Regions from separate parts of the Homo sapiens genome. Here region 1 is linked to region 2. Evidence: fine-mapped expression QTL. A gene starts in region 2. The other region holds a variant in brackets. All regions are shown on one strand. Distances are between the middles of the regions.

What was found. PIP is the estimated chance that this variant, and not a neighbour inherited with it, causes the effect. A credible set is the group of variants that fine-mapping cannot tell apart.
Region 1: its variant is the best candidate, but not a certain one, in a credible set for the expression of SRL in atrial appendage (GTEx, PIP 0.85).

The regions. Positions count from the first base shown.
Region 1 is chr16:4,185,759-4,197,775 of GRCh38, reverse strand. SRL (sarcalumenin) reads left to right here. Exons shown (of 6, transcript NM_001098814.2): 5 at 1,990-2,223; 6 at 4,812-8,402. The coding sequence ends at 5,623. Among named protein-coding and RNA genes, the nearest start is that of SRL, 50 kb to the left of the region's middle. The variant T/A (reference allele first, on the strand shown) is at 5,749.
Region 2 is chr16:4,236,541-4,248,557 of GRCh38, reverse strand. It overlaps SRL (sarcalumenin), which reads left to right and starts at 6,478. Exons shown (of 6, transcript NM_001098814.2): 1 at 6,478-6,551. The coding sequence starts at 6,491. LINC01569 (long intergenic non-protein coding RNA 1569) reads left to right here. Exons shown (of 3, transcript NR_039999.1): 3 at 1,497-2,733.

The DNA.
Region 1 (12,017 bases), 51 kb after region 2:
GTTGGGATTTGAATGTTGTATGTAAAAGCACCATGAAAATTTAAATCACTGGCCGGACATTATGACTCATGCCTGTAATCCCAGCACATTGGGAGGCCAAGGCAGTGGATCACTTGAGGCCGTCAGTTTGAGACCAGCCTGGCCAACATGGCAAAAACCCATCTCTACTAAAAAAAAAATACAAAAATTAGCTAAGCATGGTGACACGTTCCTGTAATCCCAGCTACTCAGGAACTTGAGACATGAGAATTGCTTGAACCTAGAAGGCAGAGATTGTAGTGAGCTGAGATTGTGCCACTGCACTCCAGCCTGGGTGACAGAGCGAGACTCCGTCTCAAAAAAAAAAAAAAAAAAGGAAAGAAAAGTTATGCCACATGCACGTGTTAAAATACAAAATTTGAAAAAGGCTGTGCATGGTGGCTTTATGCCTGTAATCCCAGCACTTTGGGAGGCTGAGGCAGGAGGATGACCTGAGGTCAGGAGTTCGAGACCAGCCTGGCCAACATGGTGAAACCCCGTCTCTACTAAAAATACAAAAAATTAGCTGGGTGTGATGGCGGGTGCCTGTAGTCCCAGCTACTTGGGAGGCTGAGGCAGCGGAATTGCTTGAACCCAGGAGGCAGAGGTTGCAGTGAGCCAAAATCGCGCCACTGCACTCCAGCCTGGGCGACAGAGTGAGACTCTGTCTCACAAAAAAAAAAAAAAAAAAAAAAAAGAAAATTTGGAAAAAACAGAAAACAAAAAAAGACATCTGCACCAATGTCCATAGCAGCATTATTCACAATAGCCAAAACATGGAAACCAGTCAAATGTTCATCAATGGATGAAAGGATCAAGAAAATGTGGTCTGTTCATACATAAATTATTATTCAGCCTTAAAAAGGAATGAAATTCTGATATCTGCTACATGGATGAACCATGAAGACATTATGCTAAAAGAAAGAAGACAGACACAAGAGGACAAATACTGTCTGATTTCACTTATATGACAGTAGGCGGCTGGGCGCGGTGGCTCACGCCTGTAATCCCAGCACTTTGGGAGGCCGAGGTGGGTTGATCACAAGGTCAGGACTTCAAGACCAGCCTGGCCAAGATGGTGAAACCTTGTCTCTACTAAAAATACAAAAATTAGCTGGGCATGGTGCTGGGCACCTGTAATCCCAGCTACTTGGGAGGCTGAGGCAGGAGAATCGCTTGAACCCGGGGGCGGAGGTTGCAGTGAGCTGAGATCATGCCACTGCACTCCAGCCTGGGCGATAGAGTGAGACTCTGCTCCAAAAAGGAAAAAAAAAAAAAAAAAAAAAGAAGGCAAAATCAGAGAGAGAGACGCCAGAGTGCTTGTAACCAGGGACTGGGGGAAGAGGAAATGGGGAATGACTGTTTAATGGATACAGAGTTTTCAGTTGGGAAGATAAAAACATTCTGGACCTGGATGGTGGCGATGGTTGCACAACAGGGTGAATGTGCTTAATGCCACTGAACTGCATGCTTTAAAATGATTAAAATGGTAAATTTAGGCCAGGAGCAATGGCCCACACCTGTAATCCCAGCACTTCGGGAGGCCAAGGTGGGCAGATCATTAAGGTCAGAAGTTCGAGACCAGCCTGGCCAACACGGTGAAACTCTGTCTCTACTAAAAATACAAAAATTAGCCAGGCATGGTGGCGAGTGCCTGTAATCTCAGCTACTCGGGAGGCTGAGGTGGGAGAATCGCTTGAACCTGGGAGATGGAGGCTGCAGTGAGCTGAGATTGCACCACTGCTTTCCAGCCTGGGTGACAGAGCAAGACTCCATCTCAAAAAGAAAAAAAAGGTAAATTTTATGTTATGTATGTTTTACCACAATTAAAAGAAAGCCCCAATAGCTTGGCAAACATATCCAATTCTGTTGCAAAAGTCTCCCTGTGACACCAGGCATATACACATGCTTCTCAGTAGATCTGTTTCACAGAGATCATGTATTCCTTCACCTCTCACCCCGTGTGCCCAGGCGCTGAACCCACCACCTCTGAGTTCACGGTCCTCATGCATGGGCCTAAGCTGAAAACCATCGAGGGCATCGTCATGGCTGCTGACAGCGCCCGTTCCTTCTCACCCCTTGAGAAGTTTGGCCAGAATTTCCTAGAGAAGCTGATTGGCATTGAGGTTCCCCACAAACTTCTGGAGAGGGTCACTTTTGTGGATACACCAGGCATCATCGAGAACCGCAAGCAGCAAGAAAGAGGTAATTTAGCCCTCATTTCTGAACAGTGTAAGCTCTGTTTCAAAAAATTATTTTTGGCCAGGCATGATGGCTCATGCCTGTGATCCCAACTCTTTGGGAGACCAAGACAGGAGGATCCCTTGAGGCCGGAGGTTCAAGACCAGCCTGAGCAACATAGTGAAACCTCATCTCTACAAAAAAATTTAAACAATAGCCAGGCATGTTCGCATGTGCCTATGGTCCTAGCTACCCAGGAGGCTGAGGTGGGAAGATTGCTTGAGCTGAGGAAGTTGAGGCTGCAATGAGCCGTAATCGTGCCACTCTACTCCAGCCTGGGCAAGAGTGAGACCCTAACTTATATAAATAAATGAATAAATAAGGCTGGGCACAGTGGCTCACACCTGTAATCCCAGCACTCTGGGAGGCCAAGGCAGGTGGATCACTTAAGCCCAGGTGTTCTAGACCAGCTTGGACAACATGGCAAAACCCCGCCTCTACAAAAAATATAAAAATTAGGTTGGCATGGTGGCACATGACTGTAGTCCCAGCTACTCGGGAGGCTGAGTTGGGAGGATTGCTTGAGCCCAGGAGGTCAAGGCTGCAGTGAGCTGTGGTCATGCTACTGCACTCCAGCCTTAGTGACACAGCAAGACTCTGTCTCAGAAAAAAAAAAAGGAAGAAAAGAAAACTACTTTTGACAGTGGGTGGTAGGCAGGCAGGGAGAGGAAGTGTGCCCAGTGTTGCCTAAGACCAGGAGAGGCATTCTTAACTTCCACCCTTCTTGTCGTTACTGCGATGCCATCTGGGTTTTGGAGTGCCTGGTGCTCCTACCTCCCCAAGGACTGATTTGGTTTGGAGACGGCAATATTTTCCAAAGTGGGGGCCTAGTCCTCTCTGCAAGCAGCTCTGAGAGGTTCAAGCTGGGGCTCAGTTGTCTTTGGGAGGCCCTGTGTGTCCTGTGTAGCCAAGGGCCTGGACTAATTGGATCCCAGTACCAGTATGTTTGACTTCTGGCTAAATTGGGTTTGGTGCTCCTGGGCCTGCTGTAGGTTGAACCTGACCTTCAACTCCTCCTATTCCCGGTTTCTGCTTTTCCAGGGTTGCTTCCCCATAAGCCTTTAGCAGGCTTCTTCAAAGCCCTACTTGCCCTCAGGTAGCAGGGGAATGCTAATGTCTGACTTCACTTACATGAGAGTAGGCAAAATGAGAAAGACAGAAACCAGAGTGGTTTTAACCAGGGGCTGGGGGGAAGGGGAGATGGGCAGTTACTGTTAATGGGTACAGAATTTTCAATTTGGGAAGATGAATAAGTTCCAGAGAGGGATGGCCATGATGGTTGTGCAACAGTGTGAATGTATTTAATGAACAAGGCTGACAACCAGGCCACAAGACTAGAAGCCAGATCCACCAGGCATGTGGCTATGGAGTAGGCCACTGAGTCCTGCCATGAGGCAAGGCTGTCTGCAGTGAGTCCTGAACAGGGCAGTGCAGGAATGTGTGAGCAGACGGTGGATCTCAGTTTATGGTTACAACTCCAATTGTGGTTATAAATAGATCTTGTAGTAATGATATTAGCAGTAATATTAGAAGCAATTAATAATATTAGTAGTAATATTAGTAATAATATTATAGTATATTTAATTATATTATTATGGTATAATGACATTAGTAGTATTATTAGTAATGTTAATAATGTTAATAATTATAATAGTAAATTGTACCCCTACTACACGTTGGATAATTTTATACATTATTGTAAAAAAAAAAAGATTTCAATGTTTTTAAGACAGGTAGTCCTCATCTCCTCAGTTTTCTTATTTGCAAAGAAAACTAGGAAATAAGAAGCTAATGGAATTAAAATGTATTCTGCACCAGCTGTATGACTGGAATTTTAGGTGCTGTCCTATATTTACAGCAACATGGTAATCTTTATATCAGTTCAGATGTTGATATTGTTCTTCTTGTCATTTTGGAGCTAAAAAGGTAGAGCTTAGAGGCATTTAATATACAGCTCGCCAGGGGCAAAGCTCAAATTCTAGTCCAGGTCTCAATGCTAAGCCCACATTCCTTCCCCGTAAATAATGCATTCATTCTTTCATGTTCTTCTAATTCCTCATTTCTCTCCCTCAGCATCTTTGCCATTGCCCCAGATCCTTTTAGACAATAGGACAATCTCCATTTTGAACAGGTATTTAGCTTTCTTGGAAACTTGGATTTCACAGTAGATTAAAACAATGATCAGGTGGGGCATGGTGGCTCACGCCTATTACCCCAGCACTTTGGGAGGCTGAGGTGGGAGGATTCTTAAACCCGGGAGGTTGAGGCTGCAGTGAGCTATAATCATGCCACTGCACTCCAGCCTGGGTGACAGAGTGAGACCCTGTCTCAAAAAACAAACCAACAAGAAAAACAAGGATCAGGCTGTTCTTGGTTGAAGATTGGCAAGGGACAGGAGATATGCAATTGATTTTTTAATAGTCTGTAGAAACCCAGAAAATCCGTAGCGCTGTTCCTTCTTTCAACCCCCAGAATGGTTTAGTTCTGAAAGGAGGTGCGCGGGCTTTGAGGGAGGCCTACTCAGTTTGACTTCTCACTTCTGTCTCCCAAAGGCTACCCCTTCAACGACGTGTGCCAGTGGTTCATCGACAGAGCTGACCTCATCTTTGTCGTCTTTGACCCAACAAAGCTGGATGTGGGTCTAGAGCTGGAGATGCTCTTCCGCCAGTTGAAGGGGCGTGAATCCCAGATAAGGATCATCCTGAACAAGGCTGACAATCTGGCCACCCAAATGCTCATGCGGGTTTACGGGGCCCTCTTCTGGAGCTTGGCCCCTCTCATCAATGTCACAGAGCCCCCAAGGGTTTACGTCAGCTCCTTCTGGCCACAAGAGTATAAGCCGGACACCCATCAGGAACTGTTCCTCCAAGAAGAGATCTCCCTCCTAGAAGACCTGAATCAGGTGATCGAGAACAGACTGGAGAACAAGATTGCCTTCATCCGCCAGCACGCCATCCGGGTCCGCATCCACGCCCTCCTGGTTGACCGCTACCTGCAGACTTACAAGGACAAAATGACCTTCTTCAGTGATGGAGAACTGGTCTTTAAGGACATTGTGGAAGATCCCGATAAATTCTACATCTTCAAGACCATCCTGGCAAAGACCAATGTCAGCAAATTTGACCTTCCCAACCGCGAGGCCTATAAGGACTTCTTCGGCATCAATCCCATTTCCAGTTTCAAACTGCTCTCCCAGCAGTGCTCCTACATGGGAGGTTGCTTTCTGGAGAAGATTGAGCGGGCCATCACTCAGGAGCTTCCGGGCCTCCTGGGTAGCCTCGGGCTCGGGAAGAATCCAGGTGCTCTCAACTGTGACAAAACAGGGTGTAGCGAAACACCAAAAAATCGCTACAGGAAGCACTAGGTGGTGGAGCGGTCCTTGGGTTCCTGTTGGTGAATCAGCTTGTGTCCTAACTGTCTGAGAGGTCCTGGTTTATTAACCCTTTGAGCCACACTGGCAGGAATTATTACACAGTGGAGAGTTGGGAG[T/A]TCATTGAGGCCAGGGGTCGGGGCAGGTGTGTGGGTCTAGGGAGGAGAGTGGAAACTGTGAATTCCTGTGTGCTTGTCTTGTTGCTTCAATGAGGAGGCCTGATTGAGGCAAGTCAGCCTCCACCTGCTTTTCCTGGGTCCTGTCTTGGAAGGACAGAGAGCAGCTAAATTCTAGTGTATCTTAAATCAGTGAGGGTCAAATAAGCTAAAAGCAGCTGAAATTCCTTTGTTCCCTGTGAGCTGGGAAAACAGCGAAGGCCTGAGTCGTAGAGATTGTCAGGTCCATTTTGGCTTCTTTCCACACCCACAGTCTCGCGTTTGTTCCCCAGCCCTCGGCTGCCTCTTAACTTTGGGTTGACTTTCAACAGTGAATAGTCTCTTGGGTCTGAATATACCTGGGTTTGTTTTTGTGTTTTTGAGACGGAGTCTCGCTCTGTCGGCCAGGTTGGAGTGCAGTGGTGCAATCTCAGCTCACTGCAACCTCCCCCTCCTGGGTTCAAGCGATTCTCCTGCCTCAGCCTCCTGAGTAGCTGAGATTATAGGCCTACCACCATGCCCAGCCAATTTTTGTATTTTTAGTAGAAACGGGACTTCACCATGTTGCCCAGGCTGGCCTCGAACTCCTGACCTCAAGTGATCCACCCGCCTCGGCCTCCCAAAGTGCTGGGATTACAGGCATGAGCTGCCGCACCCGGCCTCCACCTGGGTTTTGAGCCAATCCCCCGGACTTGCTCCTGGTTTCCTCAAGGGGTGGGGCAGTGGTTTAGGACACTCGACAACTAAGAACAGGAGTTCCCAGGAAGGACAAGGATCTGCCTCCCCCACTGCCACTTCTCTGATGTGTTCCTCAAAGCTGGCTCGAGGGCTCGATCCCTTCATCGGACCCAGGAGGGGACTGGTTGGTGTATCCAGGTAATTTACTCTTGGAAGTGACTGTAGTGAAGGTCGTGGAAGGGCTCAGAGGGTTAATTGGTTTGCAGTGCGTCTTTGTCTATTGCATGTCTTGGAAAACTCAGATCCCAAAGGCGCTGGGTTTCAGAGAGGACAGTGGAGACCTTGCTCCTTTTCCTTAGGCCGCCAGTCTCTCAAATTTCAGAGGAGGCTGTTTCCACAACTCCCCTGTGGAAACACTTGGCAGCGGAGTTGCTCCTTTGCAGTTTCCACACCATGGCTTTTCCTTTCCTTTCTTCTCCATTCCCTGATGCATCAACACTTACTTGGAGCAATTTCCTAGGAGTCAGAACCAGCACCAGCCACTCGGTGTCGGTGGCCACCAAGGCTTAACATTGACCTTCCCGCCTGACCTTGATGCAGATGTCCACTGAACACACCGCAGGAAAGCCAGGGCCTTCAATACCAATAAGTGTGAATATGTGTGTATGTTGTCCAAGAGAGATTAGGGAGATCACATAGACTCTAGGGAGTAGAGAACTTGTAACAGTCTTGCAAGGCTAGCATGCACGGCTCCACAGCAGGTGGTGGGGAGCAGAGGGGCAGGACCTGCAGGGAAGAAGCAGCCTTTGGATGGTGAAATGTGCATGGTGCACAGTCTGTGCATGCCCAGGAGACCCAGCCCGGGCTGCCTCGAGGGGCTCCTTTGTACACAGCCAGCCGCTTCTCTTGGGAACAAGCTGTCCTGGGGGCCTTACCCACGAGGCAGGAGTCAGGATGCACCAGCTCAGCACCAGGAAGTCATCCTGGACCCAGGACAGTGGAAAGGCAGGCAGAGGGAGAGGCACTCTGAGGTCAGGCAGGGTAAGCCAGTTGGCAGTCAGGTTAGGTCTATGAGGAGAACCTCGAGTTAGGAATTCCCGGTTCTCAGAATTGTTATCACTCTGGTGCATGCTGTCACAGGGGCCGTTGCGTTTGGCTTTGTGGAGGGCCTGGACCCTTCCACAAGAACACCCGAGGTTCCAGGGCACTCAGGACAATGTTTCCAAGGAACGAGTCGACCAGGAAAGAACAGTGAGTTCTGCAAGGGGCATCCACGGAGCCTGTGATAGGGGCTGATGAGATGGAATCTGTCCTGGACTTTTCTTCTCATTAACCACCCTCCGCAAACCCCAGAACCCCTCGCCTCATCTCTGTACTGTCTGCCCTCTTGGGGGATGGGCCCTCCCACTTTCCCCTGCCTGCTCCTCCATGCTGTGAGCTGCTTTGGCAGATCTGTTTTTCTGTGTAGTCAGGGGAAAAACAAAAAAAGATGCACAACTGTGTGGGCATTGTCATAGCTGTTGGTGTCACCACTGCTTTGGGGGAAATGGCTGGGATGAGGCTAATACATTCATGCAATATTTATATTTTCAGGGGGCTGCGTTATCAGCATGCTCTCCCTGCCTTGGGCTTTTCTTTCCGTCATGTTTTCCTTTTCGTGTTCCTTCTCTGATTTCTCTTGTCTCTGCTGCTCACAGGCCTGCCCATCAGTCAGTACAGATACTCAGTGTCTGGTTTCTGGCCAGCTCCGTGGAGGGGGCTTTAAGCAGAATTCTGACTCTTTGGGGTGGGGGATTAGGAACTGGGGGAAACTTAATGATCCAGAGATTCCCCCAAGAGGAGTGTCTGGAAGGATCTGTGCCTGGACAGTGGCAGAACCTTTCCAGTGTTCTTTTGGTTCTGATTTCATCAGTCTCAATAAAGTTCCGATCTCTCTTTAACACCGCGTGCTTTCTCATGGTCTCCAGCTAGGTTACTCTCTTCATCCTCCTTTTATCTGGTAGAGTTAACTCATGTGTAAGTTCCTTGGGGAGAGACTGGAAATTAAGAAATTGCCCACCCTTGTGTTAGCTGGATGCCCCAGGACCTTTTTTGGGACTGAGGCTGAGTTGCTCTCTCAGCCGCCCAGGAAGGCGTGGTGTCCTCTGAAACTTAAAGAACTGCTCTCTCCTCAGCACCTCAATGCCTCATTCCCCTGGGCATCCACGCAGCTGCCTTAGATAACTGAGGGCTCCAGTGGAGGAGGGCACAAAGGTTTCCTGAATGGTAAGGCTGCCACCTCCCCTTGGCTTCACCAGAAAGTGTTCTCCTCCTCCACGAAGTGTGGACGTGAGCCTCCCGCTTGGACCTGTCTTTAGAGAAACCTGAACGCGTCCTTGACTCCCTGAGCCCTTTCTATCACATTTTCCTGTTTCTAGTATCCTCTTCAGAGCAGAGGTCGTTTAATTTTTATGTTTTACTTCTGGGGTCTTCGAAGGAGTTTCACATCTTGCTTGAGAACAGGTTTTTTGTTGTTTTCTTTTCTTTTTCTTTTTTTTTTTTTTTGAGACGGAGTCTCGCTCTGTCGCCCAGGCTGGAGTGCAGTGGCGCAATCTCGGCTCACTACAAGCTCCGCCCCCTAGGTTCACGCCACTCTCCTGCCTTAGCCTTTCGAGTAGCTGGGACTACAGGCGCCCGCCACCACGCCCGGCTAATTTTTTGTATTTTTAGTAGAGACGGGGTTTCACTGCGTTAGCCAGGATGGTCTCGATCTCCTGACCTCGTGATCTGCCCATCTTGGCCTCCCAAAGTGCTGGGATTACAGGCATGAGTCACTGCACCCGGCTGGTTTTCTGTTGTTTTCGATTTTTTTTTTTTTTTTTTTCTGAGATGGAGTCTCGCATTGTTGCCCAGGCTAGAGTGCAGTGGCGCCATCTCAGCTCACTGCAACCTCCGCCTCCCGGGTTCAAGCGATTCTCCTGCCTCAGCCTCCTGAGTAGCTGGGACTACAGGCACATAACACCATGCTTGGCTCATTTTTGTATTTTTGGTAGAGATAGGGTTTCACCATGTTGGCCAGGCTGATCTTGTACTCCTCACCTCAAGTGATCCGCCTGCCTCGGCCTCCCAAAGTGCTGGGATTACAGGCTTGAGCCACCACATCTACCCATTTTTTTTTTTTGAGACGGAGTCTCGCTCTGGCACCCAGGCTGGAGTGTAGTAGCGCGATCATAGTTCATTGCAGCCTTAACCTCCTGGGCTCAAGCAATCCTCCTGCTTCAGCCTTCTGAGTAGCTGGGACTACAAGCACATGCCACCATGTCTGACTAATTGAAAAAAACATTTTTTTTTTTTTGTAGGGATGAGGTTTCATTATGTTGCCCAGGCTGGTCTCAAACTCCTGGCCTTATTCCATCCTCCTGCCTCAGCCTCCCAAAGTGTTGGGATTAGAGATGTGAGCCATCTTGCAGGTAGACAGCGGGTTTTGAAAGGGAAAAAACTGGGCCCTGGGGAGAAAGGGAGAGTCTGCAGTCCTTGGTCTTTGAGCAACTGAGCAACATGACCCAACTAAGGCCACTCCTGTTCACCCACCCAACCCTGCGTCCCTCTTCCACCCTTTCCCGGGAGAAATCCAGAGCTCTTGCCTGGAAGAAGGAGGACTGTTTTAAAGATAAATGTTAAGTAATATGCCAGAATCTGCCTCAAAATTGTACTGTTTCACAAGCCTCACCATCTTCACATTGTCTGCCATTAAGATGATAGAGAAACAGAAACAGAAAACGGAGAAAGCACAATCCGGGACCAGGATAAACATAGATAAAGTGAGGGGCATGAATGGAGTATTTTTAAGGGTAAGTGGATGTATCATCTGAATCCATGGGGGTTACACATGGTTATATGCAAAAGGTGTGTGCAAATACATATGTAAAGTCCATGAGTGTGGGGAAACAGGTGGCCAGGTACTTAGCACAGTGCCTGACACACAGGAGCTCATCACCCGTGTGCCATCAGAGTGAATAAGTGGGTTTGGGGGAGTAAAGAAGGTGTCTGTGCGGTTTTTTGAGACAGGGTCTCACTCTGTCACCCAGGCTGCACCCAGGCTGGGTGACGTGATGCAACCACAGCTCACTGCAGCCTTGAATTACTGGCCTCTAACGATCCTCCTTCCTCAGCTCAGCTTCCCAAGTAGCTGGAACTATAGGTGCACATCACCACACCCAGCTAATTAAAAAAGGTTTTTTTTTTGGCTGGGTGCGGTGGCTCATGCCTGCAATCCTAGCACTTTGGGAGGCCGAGGTGGGCAGATCACTTGAGATCATGAGTTCAAGACCAGCCTGGTCAACATGGTGAAACCCAGTCTCTACTAAAAATACAGAAATTAGCCAGGCATTGCGGAGGGTGCCTGTCATCCCAGCTACTTGGGAGGCCGAGGTAGGAGAATTGCTTGAACCCAGGAGGCAGAGGTTGCAGTGAGCTGAGATGGCACCACTACACTCCAGGCTGAGTGTTTTTTTTTTTAGAGAGATGGGATCTTGTCATCTTGCCCCGGCTAGTCTCAAACCCCTGGGCTCAAGTGATCCTCTCACCTCAGATCATTTTTCTTTAGAAGAAAGTAAAGGCAATAAAAAAGCATTAGAAAAACAAACTGGCTGGGCTAGGTGGCTCACACCTGTAATCCTAACACTTTAGGAAGCCAAGGTGGGAAGGTCATTTGAGGACAGGAGTTCAAGACTGGCCTGGGAAACATAGTGAGACCTCCTCTCTACAACAACAACAACAAAATTAGCTGGGTGTGGTGGCATGTGCCTGTAGTCCCAGCTACTCAGGTGGCTGAGGTTGGAGGATCGCTTGAGCCCAGGAGGTAGAGGCTGCAGTGAGCCATGATCCCACCACTGCACTCCAGCCTGGGAAACAGAGCAAGAACCTGTCTCCGTTAAAAAACAAAACAAATAGAAACTGAGAGTAGTGTGATGTGACATGAGGTTGTCTGTAGAATGCTGACCAGCCTGGCCAACATGACGAAACCCCGTCTCTACCAAAAATACAAAAATTAGCTGGGCGTGGTGGTGCATGCCGGTGGTCCCAGCTACTTGTAGGCTGAAGCATGAGAATCGCTTAAGCCTGGGAGGTGGAGATTGCAGTGAGCTGAGATCGCGCCACTGCATTACAGCCTGGGCGACAGAGCGAAACTCTGTCTCAAAAAAAAATATATATATATTATATATCTCTATATATATCTATATATATTTTATATTTTTTATATATAAAATATATAAAAAATTTGCTGGGCGCAGTGGCTCACGCCTGTAATCCCAGCACTTTGGGAGGCCGAGGCGGGTGGATCATGAGGTCAGGAGATTGAGACCACCCTGGCTAACACGGTGAAACCCCGTCTCTACTAAATATATATAAAAAAAAAAATTAGCCGGGTGTGGTGGCGGGTGCCTGTAGTCCCAGCTGCTTGGGAGGCTGAGGCAGGAGAATGGCGTGAACCTGGGAGGCGGAGCTTGCAGTGAGCCGAGATGGCGCCACTGCACTCCAGCCTGGGTGACAGAGTGAGACTCCGTCTCAAAAAA
Region 2 (12,017 bases):
CACACATCAGCGGTTAGTCTGTTGATACACATTTATTATCTCTCCTATTGTCTCCTGCCCTATGGGAGATGTAGACAGTGCTCTGAACGTTCTGGTTGCAAAGAGAATTGACAAACTGCTGTTCTCCAGCCTGACCAACATGATGAAACCCCATCTAAAAATACAAAACAATTAGCCGGACTGTAGTGGTGCACGCCTGTAATCGCAGCTACTCAGAAGGCTGAGGCAGGAGAATTGCTTGCATCCAGGAGGTGGAGGTTGCAGTGAGCTGAGATCACGCCATTGCACTCCAGCCTAGGCGACAGAGTGAGTCTCTGTATCTGCTGTTCTGTTGTAGGAGAAGGAGATGTCAGGTATAAGGGTTAGCAGGGGGTGGCTTGGTTGCGATCAGGAGAGAGGTAGTGCTCATTCTCCATGGGATCCTTGTGGTGCATGTCCCTGGCTTTTTTTTTTTTTTTGAGATGGAGTCTCACTCTGTCACCCAGGCTGGAGTGCAGAGGCACAATACTCGGCTTACTCGGCTCTGCCTCCTGGGTTCATGCATTTCTCCTGCCTCAGCCTCCTGAGTAGCTGGGATTACAGGTGTGCACCACCACGCCTGGTATTTTTAGTAGAGATGGGGTTTCTCCACGTTGGCCAGGCTGGTCTCAAACTCCTGACCTCAAGTGCCGCGGTTTGCCACAGTTACCACGGGACTAAACGAAGGGGTACGAACGTAGAAATGAAAACTTAAAACAAAAGAAACTGTTTTAAAGGAAGGGGCCAGGGGAAGAAGAAGAGGGCTCCCTGCTTCTAGTGAGCAAGGGCAGCCGCCTTGAACCTCTACCGCCCTTCATACTCATTCGGTAGAAAGAGCAGGGTGGAGGAGGTAACAATTGGTCAGCTGCTTGATTGATCACAGGTTCACCTTATCTCATTACAAGAAACACTTGTGCTGGGTCGTGACTGCCCTCAGCATTCCTTCTGGGTGGCAGACGCAGTTTGTCAGTTTGCCAACACCCTGCTTTCATGAAAACAGTTTGCTGTTTACTCATATAGCCTCCAGTGGTGCACTGAGTTGATCACGACCCTCACTCTTTCGGCCTGCAACACTCAAGTGATCCACCTGCCTCGGCTGCCCAAAGTGTTGGGATTACAGGCATGAGCCACCACGCCCGGCCTGCTCCTGGCTTTTGGCTGAAAGTTGAGACTTAGAAGTTGGGAGGAGACCTGGAGCACCGTGGCTAGTTCTAGGCCCTACACTCTTCAGAACAGCAGAGCTGTAGCTGTCTGGTAGTGAGCTCTCTGTTGCTGGGAGTATTCAGAGGCTGGATGGCTGGCTGTTAAGGGATTTCTGCTTGGGTGGGAATTTGGGTCCCTCTAAGACAGATAACCTATGATTTCTGAGATAAATGGGACAATACTTTCAATGAGGGTTACATGTTAACGCTGGGTCAGTCTTGAGTACAAAATGGATTCAGAGACCTGAGTTGTCATGTTCAATCTGATTTTCCTAGCCCTTTGAGGAACCGTTTGAGGTGTGGCACGATACAGCAAGTCAGCTGCCAAAGAGGGGCTTAGCCACAGGAAGTGCGTGCCCAGAACGGTAAAGGGGCTGTGGCCTTTCTTATCATCTCCACTCCCTGTCCCCCCCATCACCTGCTCTTCGTGCTTTGTGATAATTCAGTGAGCTCATACTCATGACCTGTGTCCTCCAGCATCTCCCGTGTCCCTCACAGCAGTTCTATGAGGCTGGCTGCCCTGTTTGACAACTGAGGCCCGCATCTTCCCCGGAATCACCGACGTGTGGCTCTGAGCCCTGTCCCAGGGATTTTCTCCATCAGAGAAGAGGAGCACTTTGAGCTTTGAGAGGAGCAGCCCTCTGCAAGTGAAGTGGAAAAAAAGGAAGCAGGCGAGGAGGCCCATCCAGACCCTCCCCCAAGACCCTTGCTGAAATGGCTGGGATGCGGCGTGCAGAAGCTCTCCTTTCCTTCACAGCCCCTGGCTTTCCAAGAGTCCCTGCCCACCCAGATGCCCGCTGGCAGATGCAGCCTCATCTCAAGGACACTGCTTGCTGGATAAATCCCTCACCACCCTAGAGACAGCCCACGGTCCTGAGACAAGGATGCGGGCCAGGCTTGTTGCACGTAAGCGCCTCCCGCAGAAACCAGTGAGGCCGGAGTTCCAGAGGAAATGATGTAGGGACAGAGGCAGAGGGCCTCCAGGAGGCACCAGCCCCAGAGTCTTCCCTAGAATCAGACTTTAAGCACAAGCAGGGAGGGAAAGCACTTGAGCAGTGCCCGTCCCTGCATACCTGGCCTCTGCTGGAACCCATGCAGGGACAGGACACTTCTTTATCAGCAATCCTGTTCCTCTCCTGGGCAGCTTCAACCTGAACATCCTCCTTCACCTTGAGCTAAAATGGGTTTCTTGTCACCCTTGCCCATCAAACCTGGCCTTGCCCTCAGGAACCACACAGGACAAGCCTAATACTTCCTTCTTGTGGCAACACTTTAGCAATTGAGACCTGGCTGTCAGGTCCTCCAAATAAACATTTGTGACTGTGATGTTGACTTGCCGCTTCTGGGGACCTCTTCTCATTTGATCGGAGAAAGTTTTTCAGGGTTAAACCTACTTCTTTCCCCCAAGAAACTCTTCTTGTCAGGCTCACGCCTATAATCCTGGCACTTTGGGAGGCCAAGGCAGGAGGATTGTTTGAGACCAGCCTGGGCAACGTAGGTAGACTATGTTGCTACAAAAAGAAAAAGAAAAAATGGCCAGGTGTAGTAGTCCCAGCTGCTTGGAGGCTGAGGTAGGAGGTTTGCTTGAGCCCAGGAGGTCGAGGCTGCAGTGAGCTATGATTGTGCCACTGCACTCTAGCCTGGGAGACAGAATGAGGCCCTGTCTCAAAAAAAAAAAAAAAAAAAAAAAGATGATGAAACTCCTCACGTATTTCTCCCCGGAGCATGTGCTCCCAGGCTCAAATCCACAGCAGCCTCGTTACACACACGTCATCCCCTGGCCCCGAGATATTGCACCGCCTTCCCCTTTCTAGCTCTGAACCCCCACATGAAGCAGCCAGACGTAGGAAAACCCAGATTCATAAAGCGCTGATATGGGTGGTCCTTTACCAAAGGATTTTCTGCTTTACAAAGTAATTCACCAAATGATTTCCCTAGAGTATGGGCAGAGATTTGCAAACTACAGCTTGGAACCAAGCTGCCTTTTTTTTATAATAAAGTTTTATCAGGATGCATCCACATCCATTCATCTCTGTGGTGCCAGCTGCTCTAGCTACACAGGCAGAGTGGAAGAGTTGCAGATGGCCAACAAAACCTAAACTGTTTACCGCCTGGCCCCTTATAGAAGCAGCTGGCTGACGCTGGCTCCAGGGCATCAGAAATGGGACCATTGGAAAGGAGTAGCCGGGCTACATGGTTTTTCTTCTGCCCCACGTCTTGTTCTCAAACATGCTTCCTCCCCAGTCATCTGAGGAATGTCAGTCTGAGACAGTCAGGAGCAGGTGTGCCTAGGGATGCATGGTTTCTGAAAATGGGGTGGGGTCTTTTAGGCTGAGGGCTCTGGCAGCTTCTGTCTGAAGGCTGAGCTGAGCTGAGCAGAGCTGGGCATGGTGGCTCACGCCTGTAGTCCCGGCTACTCAGGAGGCCAAGGTGGGAGAATCACTTGAGCCTGGGAAGTTCAGAGGAGCCTGGGCAACACAGTGAGACCTCATCTTTATTTTTTGAAATTTTTTGTTTTTATTATTTTTTTAATTTTTAGGAGCAGAGGGTTAATAGGCAAAAGAAAGAGAGAGAGGAAAACAGCTCTCTCCAGTGAGAGAGAGGGTACTTCTGAAAGGAAAACGCCACCGGCAGCAGATGCACTGGATTTTATAGTCAGGCTTGAGGAGGTGGTGTCTGATTTACATAGGGCTCACAGATTGGTTCAGTCAGGTATGATGTTTACATAGCGCTGGGGTGTGGGGAAGGCTGACCTCCCCACTCTAATCTTATTATGCAAATGAACTTTCCCCTTGGCCAGCACCATCTTGTCTGCTCCTTACTGTGCACGTGGCTGGCAGAGAAGGGAAGATGGAGCCGCCATTTTGAACATGATTGGCACAACTGCCTGCATCTATGTCTGCAGCTCGATTTTACACGCTGCTCTTTGTTAGAAAGGAAAATGATTTGGGGCTGCTTTTCAGTAAAAGGAAAACCTTACTGAGGACTTCTGTATCCTCACTATCTAAGTAATTTCCTCTTAACTCCTGTATCATTCCCCACTCTGGAGTGGTAACCCTAACTGCTCTTCGGGGTTGTTTGATGATGACTCTTTCTGGCTACTTCATACTTAAAAGGGGTGTTGTGTGGGGAACAGAAGCTAAGGGCTCCTCCTGGGGTCGAGCTAAGGGTCCTCGGAAAAAAGGCATGTCCGTGCATGGTTCTGTCTGCAGCACCATTTAGAGTTTGATTACTGTCAGCCATTCTGATGGGTTGTAACACTGGTTTGCCTCCACCAGATGTTGAGATAGTTTCCAGATTCCAGAGAAACCAGGCAGAGAGAAACAAACATGCTCCAAATTTTCTTCACAGGAGTATACCTTATTCAATTATTAAAGGCCATAAATAGTTCACAATAAGTTTTCTTGACTCGTTTTGATGAGTGTTGTACCTTGGGATCCCGGATGAGGTCCCCAACATGAAGCAGCTACATTGTTTGGGGTAAATACCTGGGGTTCATTGTCTCACGCCAAGAAAATTTAGGACACAGACACACATGAGGAGTTTAGGAGCAGAGGTTTAACAGGCAAAAGAAAGAGAAAGAAAAACAGCTCCTTAGTGAGAGAGAGGGGACTTCCAAGAGGAAAAGTCCCAAGACCTTGTCTTTGAAAAAGCAGTAGCTCATGCCTGTAATCGTAGTGCTTTGGGAGGTCGAGACAGGAAGATTGCTTGAGCCCAGGAGTTGGAGACCAGCCCGAGTGACATAGGAAGACCATGTTTGCAAAAAACAAAAAAATTAGCCAGATGTGGTGCACACCTGTATTCCCAGCCCCTCGGAGGTTGAGGTGAGAGGGTGGCTTGAGCCCAGGAGTTCAAGGCTGCAGTGAGCTATGATCGTGTCACTACTCCAGCCAGGGTGACAGAGACCCTGTCTCTTAAAAAAGATTAAAAAAAAAAAAAAAGTCAAGTGCCTACCAGATGCCTAATTCTTTTTTTTTTTTTTTTTTTTTTTGAGACAGAGTCTCGCTCTGTTGCCCAGGCTAGAGTCAGTGGTGCAATCTTGGCTCATGGCAACCTTCGCCTCCTGGGATCAAGTGATTCTCCTGCCTCAGCCTCCTGAGGAGCTGGGATTATAGGCACCCGCCACCACACCCAGTAATTTTTGTATTTTTAGTGGAGATGGGGTTTCACCATGTTGGCCAGGCTGGTCTCAATCTCCTGACCTCAGGTGATCCACCCGCCTCGGCCTCCCAAAGTGCTGGGATTACAGGTGTGAGCCACTGTGCCTGGCCCTGATTTAGTTCCTTTCCTCCAAGGCTGGCTTCTACCTCTTCCCCACACAGTGACACTGTACCCCGACCAGACAAGCAAGTGTCTGCTTTCCCTTGGCTTCTTACAACTGGCTCTCTGGGCCATCTACAAAAAATTTTAAAAAATTAGTACAGCATGGTGGCACTACTGTCCTAGCTACTTGGGAGGCTGAGTTGGGAGGATTGATTGAGCCTGGGAGGTCGAGTGCAGTGAGTGATGATTGTGCCACTGCAGTCCAGCCTGGGTGACAGAGCGAGATCCTCTATCAAAAACAAATAAACAAAAAAGCACTTTGCAGAGGTGACTGAATGTTCTGGAACCCCTGGGCCATTGGAAATGGATATCTGTTGCTCCATCCTCCAGTTTACACCGTAGCCTCAGCTTGTGTCTCAGTGTGCCCCTCTCCCTCTGGTCTGTGCTCTCTCTCTTCCAGAGGCTGGGAAGGTTGTTCCAGGGCTGCAGCCTTGGACCTCAGAGGTCACATGTTGCGGGTTTGCCGTAGCTGACCACTCTCTAGCATGTGGATCAGTGGCTGTTAAATAGGATTTCTTTTGCGTGGCCTTACAACTTCCTCCTTCCAGTGCAGGCGTGTCAAGGTCCTTAACCTGCCGAGACTTCAGGTCAAGTTATTGCAAGTTCTGGGAAGACTCAGCTTCCCAGCTCCACCGCCTGAGCCCAAGGGATGCTCCATTTTATGCCTGTCACCCACGCCCTGTGACCCATGTCATGTGATCCCAGGGCTGCAGGGGTTCGGGGGAAGAGAATCCAGCCACGGCCCTGCCTTCTGGGGCCTGGCAGCTGGGACAGCAGTGGCGCAGCCTGAGCCTCTGCACAGCCTTCTGGGGTCCGGGCTTCTTCCCCATCACACCCTCCTAGTTGCCCTGGTGACTGTGTGACCCCTCTCCCCCCTCCACCGCCTGCTGCCACGGCCGGCCGTATAAATAGAGGCGAGGAGCAGCTGGGCTCTCTTGGCAGTCACCATGAGGGCGCTGGTCCTGCTCGGCTGCCTCCTGGCCTCGCTCCTGTTCTCAGGACAAGCAGGTAGGGCCCCTCCCAGCATGACCCAGCCCAGACTGGTCCCCCACGCTTCCTCCAAGGTTTTCTGTCTACCATGGGTTGGGTAGGGGGTCGGGGCTGATGGCAAACCCTGGCTCTTGGCTGGTGTCTTCTTACCCTTCTCTTTTCCCCGGGCCTGGGGCCTCAGAGAAAGAGCTGGGTGCTGGAGAATAGCAGCACAGTTGCGGGGCCCTCAGGAAGGCCAGAGGAAGTGGGAACGGCAAACAGAGCTGAGCTGTGAGCCAGGGTCAGAGAGGAGTCTGGCCAGTAGATGTGGGAAAGAGGGCCCTCAAAGTCGAGACGGGGGAGCCTCTGAGACGGACAAAATAGCACAGTCTGGGAGCTGGAGGTCGTTGAGGTGACCCTCCCACCTGGTGGGATATAAGGCGGAGGCCCCACTCGGGTAAGAGAACTGGGTTTGCGTGGACAGAAGGGGATACAGTGGGCAAAGGTGGGGACCGTTTTGGGAGCAGTGAGATAGAATTGGAATTGGTTTGGGATAAGATCGGAAATAGAGTTGGCGGTTGGGCTGGAAACAGCATTGGATGCAATTCAGAAGAGGAACGGGGCCCGTTCTGGAGTAGAGCCTCTGCTCGGGGTGGGGGCTTCCATCAGAAAAGGGGCTTGGCTCTGTGTGCTGAGGCTTCCCTTTGACATCTCAGCACTTTGGGTAGCAGAGGTGGTGGCTTGGGTTGCAGCATGGGGGTTATCTATAGGCTATGGAGGAGATGCCAGATTGTTTTGCCACCTCTCTTGTTCCTAAGGTTCCTGAGGCCAGGTTCCCCGAGGGAATGCTTTTAGGGAGGTGCTCCGGGGATCCCCCTAGGATCCGGACTGCCCACCGAGTCTTTTCATGACTCGGCAGTCTTCCCCCAAGCTGGGCTCTGAGCCTAGGTCCGTACCTGGGACTGGAGAGGCCCAGAGTCCAGCCTCTCAGGTCTTTGAGGTTGAATAGGGGGTTGCAGGGGCACAGTCCCTGCAGGGAGAGCAGGCAGTGGGTGGGAACAAAAGCTATTTCTCGGGGACTCAAGATGTAAGGTGGGGGGCTCCAGCCACTGCATGTGCTGCTGGGCCCTGCCCTTGTCTGTCCTTGAGTTAATTTGGGCTCTGCAGGGCTGCAGCGGCTTGAGTGCTGAGTATTCCAGGCGGCTGTCAGGCGGCTAAGTATGGAAACAGCCGCGTAATTGGATCCGGAGCCCCAAGCCGCTGCCACCCTCTCCCTTCGTGGCCGCTCCTGTGCTGCCCCCCAGCCCCAGCTGCTGGGCTGCTACACACTGGGCCCCAGGAATTTTTGGCCTTTTAGGGACATCCTTTATCTTTCCTCCCACCGAGGGAACTGGTCATCTGGAATGTTCTGCAGGCCTCGCTGGGGGCTCTTGTCGTGGGGAAAGGACGCAGGCAGGTGCTTGTGCAAAGGTCCCTTCTCTCTGCTGTCTTTCCTTCCTGGGTCCCACAGCGTGCGTCTGCCCCTGGCCCAACCTCCGGCGTAAAGCTTCCCTCTGTCCCTGCTCCTGCTCAGCACTTGGGCTGTGGGTTTCATCCACTGTGGTGGATTTTATCAGGACTCTGCCCCACTGTGGACTGTATACCCCAGAATAGGCCTCCTCCTGCATCCACCGGCAGGTTCTAACCCACAAGGTGGCTTCCTCACGCCCCCATCATGACAGTCCTTCCTACTGGGTGATTTCCCCTTCAGAATTGTGCCACCCCGGTAAATACCACCCCACCCAAAGGTCACATCTTGGCTCCTGACCTCTTTCCCTCATCTCTCCGCTGTGTGCTAACTTCCCTCCCTATCATGCTTGCTCCTTGGCTGGGTGGCGGCAGATATTCTCGCTCACCACTCCCATCTGCTTCCTAGGCCAGGGACCCCACAGAGCTTCTCCTCCGGCTTCTCCTCCTTGTTGCTCGTGTGCAGCTCTGGCTGGGGTGGTGGGCTCTGCAGCCCTCCTTCTCGCCTCCCTGTGAGGAGACAAGCGCCCCTCTGTTACCAACCACCCGTCGCCCGTGCCCATGCCAGGACGGGGAAGGAGCAGCCAGGTGGGGCCTTACCCGGTTTCCACCTCCCGACCTGCTGCTGCACTCAGGCCTTTGTACCACCCACTGGGCCCTCCTCTTTGGGAGTCCTGGCTTGGGGCTGTTCCTCCTTAAAGCAGTGGGAAACGCCCCTAGCAATGATTTGATCGGTCTCCCCACCATCCAGGGAAGGGAAGGAAACCCAGAGAAACAGGAAAACTTTTCCGAGGTCAGACAGCGCGTCAGTGACAGGCACACCCGGGCCAGGGTCCTCTCCTTTCCTCAGCCCGTCTCTCTGTGACAGACCCTGCCTGCACTCCCAAGCCCCTCTCTCCCTGTACGGTGAGTGTGAAAGGAGGAGAAAGGGTGCAGTGGATAAGACCGTCCTGGGGGAGTTTCCCTAGTTTGCAGGGCGAAGAGCTATGCTTTTGGTTTCCCTGGAGAGCGAAGTCTGCTGAGAAAGCATTTCATTTCTTCGGGTTTAAGCCATTGGTGTTTACTGCTAAAGGCAGAATTTGGGACCTCTTTGCTTCCTGTTGTCCCTCTTGTTGCTTGATACGGAGATTGGGGATCTGGGGATTCCTGTCCATCTCATCCTTCCTCCACCTCCAGCCCTAGCTTCAGACTTGCCCATCTGCCCTGGCCCCACCCGGCCACCCCAATGGCAAGGGGCTGGTGCATGCTGGGGCTGCCCCTCTGTGAGTGCCCACAGCTCAGTGCCCGCCATGTGAGACAAGGGTGCAGTGACGGTCAGGAAGCTGTTTCCCCGCCCCTTTCTCTCCCACCCCTGGCTGGTTATTTCTGGAAAGAGGCCAGCACTCCAGTTTCCTCATCAGGGCAGCCTAGCTGTGGCAGGGCTGCTGAGAAAATGTAGCAAGCTCAGGGGTCTTGGGGAGAGAACAGACCCCAGAAGCCTTTTCCCCACAGCTGGTTCCCTGACTCCTCATTTGGTGCAGCCGGGCAAGCCTGTAGGGGACATCTGGTCCCACAGTGAGCCTGGAATGCACTAGACTGGGTCTTGCTAATGAACACATCCCTCAAGAAGGTAACACGGTGGTCGGACACAGTGGCTCACACCTGTAATCCCAGCGCTTTGGGAACCCAAGGTGGGAGGATCGCTTGAAGCTAAGAATTTGAGACCAGTCTGGACAACATAGTGAGACCCTGTCTCTAAAAAAAAAAAAAAATAGCTCGGTGTAGGGGTGCATGCCTGTGGTCCCAGCTACTTGAGAGGCCGAGGGGGGAGGATCACATGAACCTGGGTGGTCAGGCTGCAGTGAGTTGTGATTGCATCACTGACTCCAGCCTGGGTGACAGAGCGAGACCTTGTCTCAAGGAAAAAAAAAAAAAAAGTGGCACCGGGCATGGTGGCCTGTGGAACTGCTGTTTAGGAACTGCTGGTTTTTTCCTACATCCAGGTATTACAGTGAAGGTCAAACAGTGAGTTCATGGCAGGCCAGAGCTGGAATTCAGTCCTTTCCACTCCTTGGCCAGTGCTTTTACCCGCTTATCCCCCAGAGGGAGGTCCAGATGAGGCCGGTAGCATCTAGCTGGCCGTTTGATGCCTGCTTGGGTGTAGTGGGCTGGGGAGAGTCAGCCTATGGACTCAGGAGGGGGACAGCTGTTTCCGTTCTCTGACCTGGCCTGCAGGCTAAGGACAGAGCTAGGCCCTGTGCATCCTGGCTGGAATGAGGCAGGTGGCTGGGGGAGTGGGGAGCAGGGAGGGCCATGGCTGTGGGATGGAGCGCCTGGGCTTACTTAGCTCTCTCTCCTGGGCACATGCCCTGCTCCAAACCCAAATCCAGGCCTCATCGCAGCATAAGTCCTTACCTGTAAACATCGCTCGTATGTGCAACCCTGTCATTCAAACACCTCAACGTGTTCCATCATTCGTGAACCCATCCCTCGTTTGCTGCATCCCTGCTGTTTTTGAAGTATGGTACTAGGGGAATTGAGACAGGCATTTTGTCCTCAGTGCTTATAGTCCAGTAGGGGAGAGGAGGCGTCTTCTCCCTTGCACGTAGCTGAATCTAGTCAAATGGGACACACATCAGTGTCACTGGGGAGGCACAGGAAAAGCAAGGTGGGGCTGAAGGCAGGGAGGAGACCATCCTGAGCTGAGTGGATCGGATCAGAAAAGGTTTTACGGATGAGGGAATATTTGAGCTGGGCCTTGAAGAAAGCAGGATTCAGAACAGAAAGATGGCAGGAAGGGAATTCTGAGTTGAGGGAACAAGATGAGCAAACTCACGGTGCCAGAGCAACGGGGCTCTGGTGAGACCCAGGGAAGGGGAGCATTGTTCTGTCTTGCATGAAGGCGGGCAGATGGAAGTGGGGTGGCGGGACGTGTTCGGAAGGCAGGGGTGGGGCTGAAGTGTGAAGGGCCTTGTTAGGCTAAGCAGGGCTTTGCTCTGTGGGCAGCGGGTCACTACCAAGGGCTCAGGGAAGATCCGTCTGGCAGTTGTTTGTAGGAAGAGTAGGGAGGGGGAGACTGATTAGTCAGCCATGCCAGAGAGGTAGGTGAGGGAGTGTGGACCTGGGCGAGGGGTTGGGAGTGGAGAGAAGGGGTGGACCCAGCTGACAGCTGGTGTAGAATCCCTGGCCTTCCCAGCTTGGGAGCCAGGCCAGGGGAGGGGGCCCTTACAGGTTCCATTGAGGTCACTGGGAGAATGATCTTGCCAGAAAAATAGACTGGGAACATAAGAGAGAGGAACAGATTTTGAGTCCAGTTTGGGCTTGGATGAAGTGGCTCACACCTGTAATCCCAGCACTTTGGGAGGCGGAGGCAGAGGCAGGAGGATGGCCTGAGCCTAGGAGTTTGAGACCAGCCTGGACAACATAGAAAATAAAACAAAAAATAGAAAAAATGAACTGGGCATGATGGCGGGTACCTGTAGTCCCAGCTACTTGGGAGGTTGAGGCAGGAGGATCGCTTGAGCTTGGTAGGCTGAGGCTGCAGTGAGCTGTGATGGCACTATTGTACCCCAACCTCGGCAACTGAGTGAGACCTTGTCTCAAAAAAAAAAAAAAGTTCACGGCTGGGTGCAGTGGCTTACACCTGTAATTCCAGCACTTTGGGAGGCTGAGGGCAGATCACGAGGTCAGGAGTTCGAGACCAGCCTGACTAATAGGGTGAAACCCCATCTCTACTAAAAATACAAAAAATTAGCCGGGCGTAGTGGCATGCGCCTGTAATCCCAGCTACTCGGGAGGCTGAGGCAGGAGAATTGCTTGTACCCGGGAGGCAGAGGTTGCAGTGAGCTGAGATCATGCCACTGCACTCCAGTCTGGGCACCAGAGCAAGACTCTGTCTCAAAAAAAAAAAGTTCAGTTTGGGTCATTATGAAGATTGGTTACTCGTGGGGCATCTGGAAGGAGGTGGCAGGGGTTAGGCAGGACTGGAGCTTAGGAGGGAAGTCAGGTCAGGGCATTTAG